3 separate regions of the Homo sapiens genome follow, and regions 2 and 3 are each linked to region 1. The links come from fine-mapping of genetic effects on gene expression. A gene starts in region 1. Each other region holds a variant in brackets. All regions are shown on one strand. Distances are between the middles of the regions.

Evidence for each region. PIP is the estimated chance that this variant, and not a neighbour inherited with it, causes the effect.
Region 2: its variant is fine-mapped to the expression of GSTT2B in stomach (GTEx, PIP 0.92).
Region 3: its variant is fine-mapped to the expression of GSTT2B in transverse colon (GTEx, PIP 0.90).

Annotation. Positions count from the first base shown.
Region 1 is chr22:23,958,987-23,963,134 of GRCh38, forward strand. It overlaps GSTT2B (glutathione S-transferase theta 2B), which reads right to left and starts at 2,209. Exons shown (of 5, transcript NM_001080843.4): 1 at 2,034-2,209; 2 at 1,308-1,395. The coding sequence starts at 2,145. RefSeq lists an enhancer at 430-1,095.
Region 2 is chr22:24,005,215-24,009,362 of GRCh38, forward strand. GSTT4 (glutathione S-transferase theta 4) reads right to left here and starts at 239. Exons shown (of 5, transcript NM_001358664.2): 1 at 31-239. The coding sequence starts at 142. It overlaps LOC105372959 (a long non-coding RNA gene), which reads left to right and starts at 337. Exons shown (of 2, transcript XR_001755457.1): 1 at 337-378; 2 at 504-3,653. The variant T/A (reference allele first, on the strand shown) is at 2,129.
Region 3 is chr22:23,999,074-24,003,221 of GRCh38, forward strand. It overlaps GSTT4 (glutathione S-transferase theta 4), which reads right to left. Exons shown (of 5, transcript NM_001358664.2): 3 at 2,102-2,252; 4 at 1,002-1,178. Among named protein-coding and RNA genes, the nearest start is that of GSTT4, 4.3 kb to the right of the region's middle. The variant C/T (reference allele first, on the strand shown) is at 2,438.

The DNA of each region.
Region 1 (4,148 bases):
GCCTTTTAGCACAAGAGAAAACTCAAGGTCAGAATGGTCAAGTGACTTGTCCGAGGCGGTGCAGCTCAGAATAGGCTCCCTGGACCCCTGGAACCCTGCATGGGGCTGGCACACAGTGGATGCTCCGTGGAGTCCCTTGCATGTCCACGCGCTTGGGTCAGGGATCACGAGGGGAGGAATGTCTTTGGCCCCCGTCTGACAGGCCCCCAGCCATCACTTCTGCAGCCACCTGACCTCTTGTCCTTTTCCTGCCCAGCAGCTGGACCTCACCATGAGCTGTGCCCTTGGGCCATGGCATTGGCCTCTAGGCCCGGCCTGGGTAGATTGGGTAGTCTGCAACAAGTCACTAGAGGCTCTTTTCAGCTAGCATTTGTTGAACAAATGCGCAACAGTGGAAAAATGTTCCCTTGTCTTCTCTTCTAATACCCTTCAGTCTGGGAGTGGAGAGGCCCTGCGGCTCAGAAAAGGCTGGAAGATGAGAGGTGGGGGGACATGTTCTGTCAGCCCCTGCTCATCCCGGTCACACCCCAAGCTGTACCTTCTCCCCAGATACCTCTCCTTTCTTTCTTTCCTTTTTTTTTGAGACGGAGTCTCCCTCTGTCGCCCAGGCTGGAGTGGGCTCCCTCTGTCACCCAGGCTGGAGTGCAGTGGTGCTATCTCTGCTCATTGCAAGCTCCGCCTCCTGGGTTCACGCCATTCTCCTGCCTCAGCCTCCCCAGTAGCTGGGACTACAGGCGGCCGCCACCACGCCCTGCTAATGTTTTGTATTTTTAGTAGAGACAGGGTTTCACCGTGTTACCCAGGATGGTCTCGATCTCCTGACCTCGTGATCCGCCCACCTCGGCCTCCCAAAGTGCTGGGATTACAGGCGTAAACCACCGCGCCCGGCCTTTTTGAGACGGAGTCTAGCTCTGTCGCCCAGGCTGGAGTGCAGTGGCGCGATCTCAGCACACTGCAAGCTCCGCTTCCTGGGTTCACACCATTCTCCTGCCTCAGCCTCCAGAGTAGCTGGGACTACAGACGCCCGCCACCACGCCCGGTTAATTTTTTTTCCATTTTTAGTAGAGACGGTGTTTCACGGTGTTAGCCAGGATGGTCTCGGTCTCCTGACCTCGTGATCCGCCCGCCTTGGCCTCCCGAAGTGCCGGGATGACAGGCGTGAGCCACCGCGCCCGGCCAGATCCCTCGCCTTTCCCCTCCCTCGCTGCCCCATGGGGTATGGGAGGGCCACTGGGGCCCGGGGCCAGTGGGGAGAGCCAAGGTCACATGGGCTCCGGATGCGGTGAGGGGTGAGGGAAGGAGGGCACCTTTCGGTCAAGATGAAATCACCATCCTTGAGCGTCGGCAGTTTCCCCAGGCTGTTGATCTGCAAGAACTCCTTGCTCTTGTGCTGCCCTGAAGAGGAAGAAGTCAGAAAAGGTCTTCAGAATAAAAACGCTGCACCTCTACACCCTCCCTCCTCCTCCCCAAGCGGAGCCCCACAGCCCTGAGAAACAGCAAGGTCTGGGACTAGAGGCCTGGATCAGCCTCACTCCCTGGCTGGGCCTCCCTGCCCTGCCACATTCCGGGGCAGCTGGGGGGCTTTGGTGGGTGGGGCCAGGTGCAGCAGGTGGATAAAGAGAAGTTTTCTAGCCGGACTCTGGTGGGCCAGGGGAGGGGAGGCAAACTGGGGTGGCTCATCTCTTCCCATCTCTTAATTCTCACAACAGCATGTCCTTCTTCCCAAGGTCTTCTGGGCTTTGTGAATTTATATGCGTGCATTCCACGCAAGAACTCTGTCAACTCCATTCAGTATTTTCTTTCCATCCCTACAGAGCAGAAGGTAACATTATCCTCCTTTTCAGAAGGCAAGCTAAGGTTCAGAGAGGCTGTGATCCCTCCAAGGCCACTCAGTCCACAGCATTCTCTGGTGGCAGACGCTGCAGGAGGAGGTGAGGGGGCTGTGCGGGCGGCGAGACGCTCAGGGCAGAGCAGGGCGGGGGCCTGGGGGTGCACTGGGTTTGTGGACACGCGGGGAAACGGGCTGGGCCCACCTTTGACCAAATCCACGGTGCGCAGCTCTAAGGGGATGCCATTCTTCTTGGCGAAGATGTAGACGGCGCGGCTGGGCTGGGACACCAGGTCAAGAAACAGCTCTAGGCCCATGGCGGGGGCGGCAAGGACAGCGGGGATGGCAGTGAAGGCGCTGAGCGCGGTGTGGGCAGCAGCTGTGGCAGGATCCCGGCGCGCCGGGAAATAGGGGATCAGGCCCCACCCCCTGGGGACAGCACCCAATTGGAGCGCACCACCCCCGGACCCGCCTCGCCCCTTCGGTTCCTGTCCAGTCCTGCCGGCCAAGACTCCACCACCAGATCCGTGCGTCCCTACAGGGAGGGCGGTCGCTATGAACGCACAGCTGGGAGGGTGGAGTTGGAGCTGGGGACCCTCGACTGGCAGGGAGGACGCGGATGCAGGGGGCCGACTGCAAGGGGAAGGGGAACCGGCTGGACAGGGAGAAGCAGGTCTGCTTTTCGGGATCCCGGTGCCAGGGACCCTGCCCAGTTCCAGGCGTCGCCCTGACCCAGAAACGACTGGGCGCCGCCGTCCTGGAAAGGCCCCAGCGCACGGACATCTGAGGGTTCGTTCAGAGCTCTGTTTCTCGGCGCTGCATGGTGGCGGAAGGGAGGGAGCGAATGGGATCCCCTAAAAGGGATCTTAGAGTTTCACCCAGTGGGATGTGACACTTGCAGGTGTCCCAAACTGGTGGGAACCTTGACTGGAAGGCTGGGGTTAAGGATGAACTTTCTGCCGTCCAGACTGTCCCCTGCAGAGCAGCTGCTGCCAGACAGCGGGAGCTGCCAGACAGCGGGAGCTCCCACTTCGTGCACAGGATGGGGGCAGGGAGCCCGCAGCCGCGGGAGGCAGGAATGACTGTCCGGGAACCTCCTTTCTTCTCCCTGAATCCCAGCCCTGGCATCTCACCAGGGGGCACAGTGATGGTCCAGGGCTGGGCCCGGGACTCTAGCTGAATCTTTCAGAGTATCCCATCCCTCTGGCCAGTGGCCCAAGCGAGTGAACCAGAATGCTTCCTTGGGAGTTTTGAAACTGGAACTGGAGAGAGGAGCTCCCTATGGGGAGGTAAACGGGAGCTGGGGCCACCTGTAGTGACATTTCCTGAGTTCGAGGAGTAGACGAGACTGAGAGAGAAAAGCTGACTCAGAGAAAGGGAGTGATAACAGGGCATGCTGGCCCACACCTGCAATCCCAGTTACTCTCACGGGATCTGTTTCTCTGATGTCTGGGTATGAAAGGACTTTCTAAGCCTCAGAACAGTGGGAGAACTCAACAAAGAAAAAACCAATACATATACAAGGTTACTTTGTGGAGGAAAAAATGGATTAACCTTAAGCAAAAAACTGGGAAGGATCTCGGTAAAAGATACGTCAGAAGGAAGTAATGTCCTTTAAGATGTTCTTAGAAACCCATCAGACAGGTAGGGTGTGGTGGTTCACGCCTGTAATCCCTGTACTTTGGGAGGCAGAGATGGGCGGATCAGTTGAGGTCAGGAGTTTGAGACCAGCCTGGGCAACACGGTGAAGCCCCGTCTCTACTAAAAATACAAAAATTAGCTGGGTGCGGTGGCACACTCGGGAGGCTGAGACAGGAGAATCACTTGAACCTTGGAGGCAGAGGTTTCAGTGAGCTGAGATCATACCACTGCACTCCAGCCGGGCCACTGAGCGAGACTGTCTCAAAACAAACAAACGAACAAACAAAAAGAAGAGAAACTCATCAGACGAAGACACAGGAAAAAAATGAGCGAAGGAAATCAGCAGAGGTTTCATTGAAGGACAAAGAGAAATGGTCAATACATGGATGAAAACATGTTTAACTTCAGTAATAATCAAGGAAGCACACACCAACACAACATGCACATACTGTTTTTATTTATCAAAGGCACACATATTTTTGAAATGAGTACTCCTAATTAATATGTACAGAGCACTTACCCAGTGCCCAGCACAGGGGTGGCACCCTGTGTGTGAGACAGCATGAAACAGGTAGACACGCGCCCTGCTGAAAGTAAGGGACCGCCTCTCTGGAGGATCCATCGGGCAATAAGGAGGTTTCCACACCTTAACTGTGTCTGCCTTGACCTCTGGGGCCTG
Region 2 (4,148 bases), 46 kb after region 1:
CAGGCCTGCCAGGCAGCAGTGGGAGTTGACCTTTCAGCAGATCCACAAACTGAAAGTTGAACTGGATGTCATGCTTCTTCGAGAAGATGTAGACGGCACGGCAGGGTGCTGACAGCAGGTCCATGTAGAGCTCCAGTGCCATGTTGAGACACATGCCAGGCCCCACAGCCGCAGTTGGCCAGCCACAGACCTGGGCCTATGTCTGGCCAGAGTCCCTGGCCCTGTGCCCTCTCCGATCTGGGCCCAGGATCCTGTGTTCCCCAGGGAAACCTCTTGTTTCCCTTTGTGTTGTCATAAGGCCAGGAAGCCTGCAATTCTCACAGCATCAAGGATTCTAAGGAGGCCCAGGAGTAGGCTGGGGAGAGGCCCGTGGCAAAGGTGTGGCAGCCGTGACCCTACTCTCCCCCTTCCACGTGTGCCTGTGCCCCGTGGTGCCACCTCACAGACACCAGTCTGAGAAGGGATTATGCCTGGGAATTCCCACGGCTGGATTTTCATTGCAGAACCTGACGAAAGGGGCTTTGCAGGGTCCAGAATGAAGAGGAGGCAATGAGAATTATCCCTGGAGGATTCTAGAAGTAGAGGCTGGGAGTATCCACAGGTAAATCGAGCCTGAACTATGACTAGAAAGGAATTGGGAGAAAGAGACACAGGTGAATCGAGCCTGAACTATGACTAGAAAGGAACTGGGAGAAAGAGACACAGGAAACTGTGAGCTTTGGGAGCAATGGGGACACCACCACCAGGAAGTCAGGGGGCACTCAGCCGGTGTGTGCCACACAGAGGAGCCTAGAAACTTCCTGGCCTTGGTTGGGGCTGCAGTGGCCAGACTGTGTACCTGGTGGCCAAGGAAGGTAACTAGAGCCCCACGTAGAGGACTGAGTGCCACTCACTCTATGCTGTGATCTAATAGGTCTAGGCTGAGAAATGGGACTGACCCCACTTCTGGTGACAGAGTAAGCCTGGAGACAAGCGAAGAGCATGCAGTGTGTTTATTGCAGACAGCAGGGTGCAGTGGAGTGGGCTGCACCCACTGCACCTGCTTCTGGGCCAGCTGGGGGTCCCGCCAAGCCTCACTGTGGTTCAGAGGCTGGAGTATGAGCTTGTGGGCCTCCAGCAAGAGCTCAGTACCAAGGGCAGCCGCCACACGGGCCTGCCACACTGCCAGCCGGGGCAGTCTTGGAAGAGGTCGCAGCCAACGGCAGTGGGCTGGGAAGACAGGGCAGCTGGGGTTGGGGCTCAGCCCCATGCCCAGAGTCCCCCCAGAGGGCAGGTGGGTAGGAAAGCTTCACCTGCATCACCTCCGTCAGCACCAAGTCTTCCAGGGAGATCTGCTCCATTGCCAGGAAGGGCCTGGCCACCAGCACCCCCCAATCCAGGTGCTGCAGGGCTGGCATCAGCCTCCCCAACAGCCGCTCCAGCTGTGCAGCATCTGCAGGCTGTCCGGAGAAGTGGGGCAGGAGAGACTGGGCTGGGAGGAGAGGAGCAACTTAACCCAGACTCTTGGAAGCCTCTTGGGCCTCCTCTCCATCCCTTCCCGGCTGCCACTCATTAGTGATGTCCTCTGGGGCTCTGTGTTCAGAAGGTTTCTAAGGATTCATTCAGGCTTAGGGGAAGGAGTACTGTGATAGATTAGTTATGTCTGCTGAGGACAGTGGAAGTGAAGCTAATATGTAATATGTACCAACTGGTGCCTTCCATCTCTGGGGGTCCAGGCCCCTGCCCCAGCCTGCATGACAGGGCCTAGGAAGCTCACCTTGCACAGGTAGACATTGGTGGCAGGCAGCTGGATGGTGACATGCTTCCACGCCAAGTACTCATCCACGCAGGTGCGGGCTTGCAGCTCAGGTGGGTACCAGTGTCCCCGTATCTGGTACTTTCGACTCAGGTATAAAACGATGACCATGCTGTGGGCAGGGGGTGTCAGAGATCTTTTCTCCAGCCTGTCAGGGCCAGGTGGCTTCATTGCTCATACTCAGGGTGATTTGACCAGGTTTTCTCCCCACCTTCACCTTCAGGGGAGGACCTCCCCTATACTGCAACTCCCTCCAGGCAGTATCTCCCCACGACCAAACCACTCTGTTTCTCCATTTCCAACTCTGATCCTCCCTGGGCCCATGTTTCCACC[T/A]CCCCTCCCAGTTACCATACCATCCTGCCCTCTGTGCCCAGGCCCCACTCCCTGGCATCAGGGTCCCCACTCAGAGTGCCTGCCGTGTGGGCCCTGCCCAAAAGGTCTCCAAGTTCCCTTCCTAGTGCCCCAGAACACTAGGTGCCCATTTTCTATCCTCAGGTAAGCCCTGGGAGGTGGATACATTATTCCTCCCACTCCGTTTTACAGAGGAGAAACCTGGCACACAAAGTTCTGTGATTTCCCCAAGGGCATGGATTGAGGAAGTGGTGAGCTGGGATTGAATGTGGAGTCTCCCCTGGGTCTGCCCAGCTCCTAGGACTCTGAAAGGATGAGCTGGGGACATTTGGGGAGGAGCCAGCCTCAAGCCTGGGCCTTGCCCGCTGGCTTCAGGTTGTCCAGGTTTATCCGGGTGACCTACGTCCTTTCCCCACCTGGGCAGCTCCAGCTGGCTCAGACTCTAGCCAGGTTCCAGCCTCCAGCTTTAGCCCAAAGGTGCCCCTGGGTCCAGCCTCTGCATCGGAGCTACACAGGCTGAAATGAGGAAGGGGCCTCAGTGATTTGGAAAGATCTCCAAGCCAAGGAAAGATCTCCCCTCTCGCCTCTGCCTCCCCCTACAACTCTGAGCCCCAGAACCCAGGCAGATCCTGGCTCTGACCCTGGGTGGGCACCAGGTCACCATTACCTCTTTGCTAGTAGGAAGTCGCCATCTCTGAGGGCAGGCACCTTCCCCAGGGGGTTCACCTTCAGGAACTCAGGCTTCAGGTGCTCCCTTGGTGGGCAGAAAGGAGAGAAGGCTCAGTGTAGGGCCTGGTCCTTGGCACCCACTCCATGGGGCCCAGCCCAGCCACCTGGCTCACCCCAAGCCAACTCCACCATCCACAGCTCAAAAGGGATGTCATTCTGTCTTGCAAAAGTGGATAGTGTGTCAGGTCCAGGAAGAGCTCAAGCCCCATTGCTGCTCCTCTCACCTGCCCTCCCCAGAATTCTGGACCTCCAGGAGTTGCTCAGCCCTTCTCCACTAGTTCTGAGCTGTTTCCTCTCCATAGTCTGCTGTAGTGGGCCAGAGCACAGGGCAGATTTGTCTTCAGGGACTTTCTCTGGGCATTCCTGGGCAGAGAACTTCATCTTCTCTGTTAACTCTTGCTGATAATTCTCTGTAGCTAGGCACCTTGTAAAACCCATGTCCCAGAATGCCAAACCTGGAAATGCAATGTCAGCGCCGAAACTGCATTGAAACTGAATGAATGAGGTCCCCACCCTCTTATCTAAATATCCTATCAGTCTGTTGAATGTCAAAGTATGTAGGGGTGGTGTGGGGGAGCCTATAGGGAGTCTCCATTTCTGTAGCTTTCCACATGTTCCATGCAGAATTTTCCTCTAATGACCCTTGGACACCGTGGTGGTCACTGTTTCCCTGCATAAACCTTTGATGATCCTTATCTTTAGCGTACCAGTGAAACACCAAATTCAGATTTTCAGTCTGTGCAGTCTATGTAGTTAATAAAATCAATTTCTAATGGAATATGCCTGTGCCTGGTGTGTTTGTACCTAACCACTGCTAAGGACTTTCATTGATAGCTAGACCTTGGAGTTCCTTCCCCTGGACCCCTGACCCAAGTATTTTGCACTCATTCCTCTGCCAGTGTGTTTCATGGTGTCCTGCTTCCCAGAGTGCCTCAGGGAATGCTTGCATTGGATATGAATGAATCGTTGCGGTCACCATGGATGGGATTCAGGCCTAACTCTCACCAAGACCATAAGGCCACAGTCTTTGATATAGATTCCCCATGTTAAATCTGCCATCCTCAGTGTAGTGAGAGTGATATTGAGAGAGAAAAGTTAGGTAATTAAGGTGGGTCCTTGGTAAAACTCCTTTAAACAGAGGAACAGCCTGAAAAATCAGGCTTCAGGCACAGATAAGGAAACTTGCACAAACCTCTGGCTCACTCAGATAAAGGAACAATGCCCAACACAGAAACACCTTTGATCTTTGTGCCTAAGGCATGCCCACAGCTAC
Region 3 (4,148 bases), 40 kb after region 1:
TGTATATGTGGATGAGGGAGAGAACTCAGGTTTTTTCCTCCATGTTTAGCCTCCCACTGTGATCAAGCTCAGGGGCTAGGATGGGAGACCTGGCGGGCAGTCTACCCTGCAGTTTCGCTGGCTTACTAAGAGTTTGGTTTGCACCCAAGATCTTTGGGAAGCCCAAGAATGGGTGTGTGTGGGTGAAATGTAAGGGGTGGGGACGAAGCATATGGCTGAACCCTTGGGGCAGGCCAGAATGATTTTTCCTGGTGCTGGTCTGCCCTGCAAACAGACCAAGGAGACTAATTTTCATATCAGCCAGAGATCTCTGGGATAAGGAAAAGAATACTGCATTTTCTGGTCAATCCACCAGGACCCCAGGTCCCTCCTCTCGGGCATATCTCTGGCTGATATGCAAATTAGTCTCTTTGGTCAGTGTGCAGTGCCCTAGCTGGTGTGCAGGATGGCCAGTTGAGACCCTGGCCAGTGTCTTGACAAGCAGAACTGGTCACCCTCCCCTGCATGTAGAGGCCACATAAATGCCCCACACTCAGGTGTGCCTCCAAATGCACAGTGGATGCCCCTCAGACCCAGCCACGAGAGCTGTCCTCCAGAGCTGTCTGTCTGGAGCTCTGGGAAACAGGCAGGGCCAGAAGGACACCCAGGAAGCCAGTGAACATTTCCTGGAGAGTCCAGCAAGAGGAGGAGGTATCTGGGATGCCGGTGGATTGAGCAGGAAATGCAGTGTTCTTCTCTATCCCAGGCTCACCCTCCGGGTCCTCCCACACCGAAGAATCTTTGTCAAGTGTGGAGAACTGTGATCCTTCCTGATTCATAACATTCTGTGCTTCCTGTTGCCCCGATTGAGTCCAGGCCCCCAGGCCTGGTTCCCGCAGCCCCCATGGCAGCTCTGCCTGCCTTTCCCGCCTCACCAGCCTATCCTCAAGTGATGGCCCCATTGGTCACAGAGGAGTCCTACCTCTGCCCAGGGTCTAACCCTCCTCCAATCCACTCCACACCTGCATCATCTCCACCACGGCCACCAGGTCAGCCAGTGAGATTTGGTTCCCGGTGATGAACATCTTATCCTGCAGAAAATACTCCTCAAAGAGCTGCAGGCTGTTCTTCACCTCTTCCACTGCATGCTCCATCTTCTCAGCTGAAACTTCCTCCCCTGTTATCTTTGGGATCAGCAACTGGCCAGGGTTGGGAAGAGGAGGGAAGAGGAGGCTGCACTCCAGGGCCACCTGCCCTGCCAGGTCTCTGTACTCTTGTCTGCTGGATAGATATTGAACACTTCCCAGGATATAAAGCAGTTTCACCTCTTTTAGCAGTTCTGATTGGTGGAAGTTGCTGGGAACCATGTGTTCACAAGGATTTGGGGAGCTCAGCAGGCATAAGTCCTGTGATTGATTAGTGATGTCTGTCACAGGCATAGAATTCAAAGTAGAGACACATGTACTGGTTATTTGTCATCTTCTAATTTTCTATAGGCCATACTCTTTTTTGTTTTTGTTTTTTGAGATGGAGTCTCACTCTGTCGCCCAGGCTGGAGTGCAGTGGCACAATCTTGGCTCACTGCCAACTCCAACTCCTGGGTTCAAGCAATTGTCCTGCCTCAGCGTCCTGAGTAGCTGGGATTACAGGTGCCCATCACCACACCCAGCTAATAATTTTGTATTTTTAGTAGAGATGGTGTTTCACAATGTTGGCAAGGTAGGTCTTGAACTCCTGACCTCAAGTGATCTGCCCGCCTCGGCCTCCCAAAGTACTGGGATTACAGTTGTGAGCCACCGTACCCGGCCTTCTGTGGGCCTTTTGACGCTGAGATTCTCTAGTTCAGAATGAAATGCCTCGAATGCTGTCCTGGGTGAGTCACATCAGCCCCTCCCGTATGCCCTTCCCCTCGCCCTAATAAGACTCTTTCATGCCCATTGTTTCAGTCCACACTCCTGACGGCTCTGTAAGGCGGGCAGGAGAAGGAGCTGAGGAAATGAGGCCCAGAGAGGGAGGGAGACTTGCTTGAGGTCGCCGGCAGTCAGCAGGGCCAGAACTGGCCTCCAGCCTTCCTGACTTCCCTGTGCCCGTGTCCCCAAGCCCCAGAAGTGGCCCTGCTCACCTTGAGCCAGACTATCTTCTTCATGGGCAGCTGAAAGGCCGTGTGTTGCCAAGCCACGAACTCATCCACACGGGCACGTGCGTGCGGGTCTGGCGGGCACCAGTGCGATGGTGCGCTGTACTTGCGGCACAGGTAGTAAAGGATGGCCGCGCTGCAGAAGGGGCCGGTCAGGGGCACTGCCCTTGCCTTCCTGAGTGCCACTACATCAACCACCCCGGTGTGGCCTGGGCCCAACTGCTGGGGCTTCCAGAGCAAAGAGGAGCCCAAACGGCCCCGAGAAAGACCTTCACCAGAGCTGTCTGTCTGACAGTCAGTAAGGGCTGGGAAGGAGCCCTG[C/T]GGGGTGAGTAGGAGTTGGGGGCTGGTGGTATAACAAAGAGTAGGCCAGCAGGGGGAACAACACGTGTTGAATTGGGATGCTGAGGTGGGAGGATCACTTGATCCCAGGAATTTGGGGCTACTGTGAGCCAAGATCACACCACTGCACTCCAGCTTGGGTGAAAGATCAAGATCCTTTTTCAAAAACAAAAACGGGGGGGCACGATGGCTCACACCTGTAATCCCGGCACTTTGGGAGGCCAATGGGGGCAGATCCCTTGAGGCCAGGAGTTGGAGACCAGCCTGGCCAACATGGTGAAACCCTGTCTCTACTAAAATGAAAATACAAAAATTAGCTAGTTGTGGTGGCACACACCTGTAATCCCAGCTACTTGGGAAGCTGAGGCACGGGAGTCACTTGAACCTGGGAGGCAGAGGTTGTAGTGAGCCAAGATTGTGCCACTGTACTCCAGCCTGGGCCACAGAGCAAGACTCTGTCTCAAAAAACCAACAAAGAAAAACACATGCTGAAATACGAGGGTAAAGGGAGCAAGGTAAATCTGAAGAAAAGAGAGTAGGGGGTTGCAACTGGAAGAAGGGTGGGGGTGATTGGGGAGTGATGAGGCAGCCAGAGACACTGTGGAGTCCACGTAGGGTAGCCCCTGGAGGTGCAGGGAGGTTATGGACTTAATGCTTAAGATTAGGCATTATATAAGCCAGGGCATGAAAGGATCCATCTCTCTGGTGCTGGATGGAGGGTGAGCCCGAGGGGGCAGAATGGACAATGAGGGGGCCAGCAACTATCGGGAAGGTTGTGGTGTCTGGGAATGTTGGAGGCCATGGGGACAGAGGGAAGGGGATGGAGGGGAGACATGCTTCGGAGGGGATGTCCTAGGCCTTGCTGATTGATGGCTGGTGTGGGAACCTCCGCAGAACAAGGGCTCCTTTATCATCACCAGCAGCAACCATGCCAAGGTAAAAAGGTCAGGGCATGGAGAGAGCTATCGGTTAAAAAGTGGCAGGAGAGACAGCAACTGGCTGCAAGACTCAGAACTTCTTGGCTGGGCACGGTGGCTCACGCCTGTAATCCCAGCACTCTGGGAGGCCGAGGCGGGGGGATCATGGGGTCAGGAGATCGAGACCATCCTGGTTAACACAGTGAAACCCCGTCTCTACTAAAAATACAAAAAAATTAGCCAGGCATGGTGGCGGGCACCTGTAGTCCCAGCTACTCAGGAGGCTGAGGCAGGAGAATGGCGTGAACCCGGGAGGCGGAGCTTGCAGTGAGCCAAGATAGCGCCACTGCACTCCAGCCTGGGCAACAGAGCGAGACTCCGTCTCAAAAAAAAAAAAAAAAAAAACTTCTTTGGATCCTGATCCAAACAAACTGCCAAGAAAATGTTTAGGAGATAATCATAGAGTTTTGAACAGGAGCCACATATTAGATGAAATCCAGGAATTATTGTTAATTTTATGAGGTATCTTAATGGTATCGTAGTGATGCTACGCTCTATCCTAGCCCAGGCTGGAGTGCAGTGGCGCAATCAGAGTTCACTGCAGTTCTGAACTTCCTGGCCTCAAGCGATCCTCCCGTGTCAGCCTCTGGAAGTGCTGGGATTATAGGCATGAGCCACCACACCCAGCCTGTTGCTTTTTTTTTGTTTGTTTTAAGAACTCTTATCTCTGAAAAGTATGTTCCTAAACATTTATTGATTTATTTACTTATTTATTT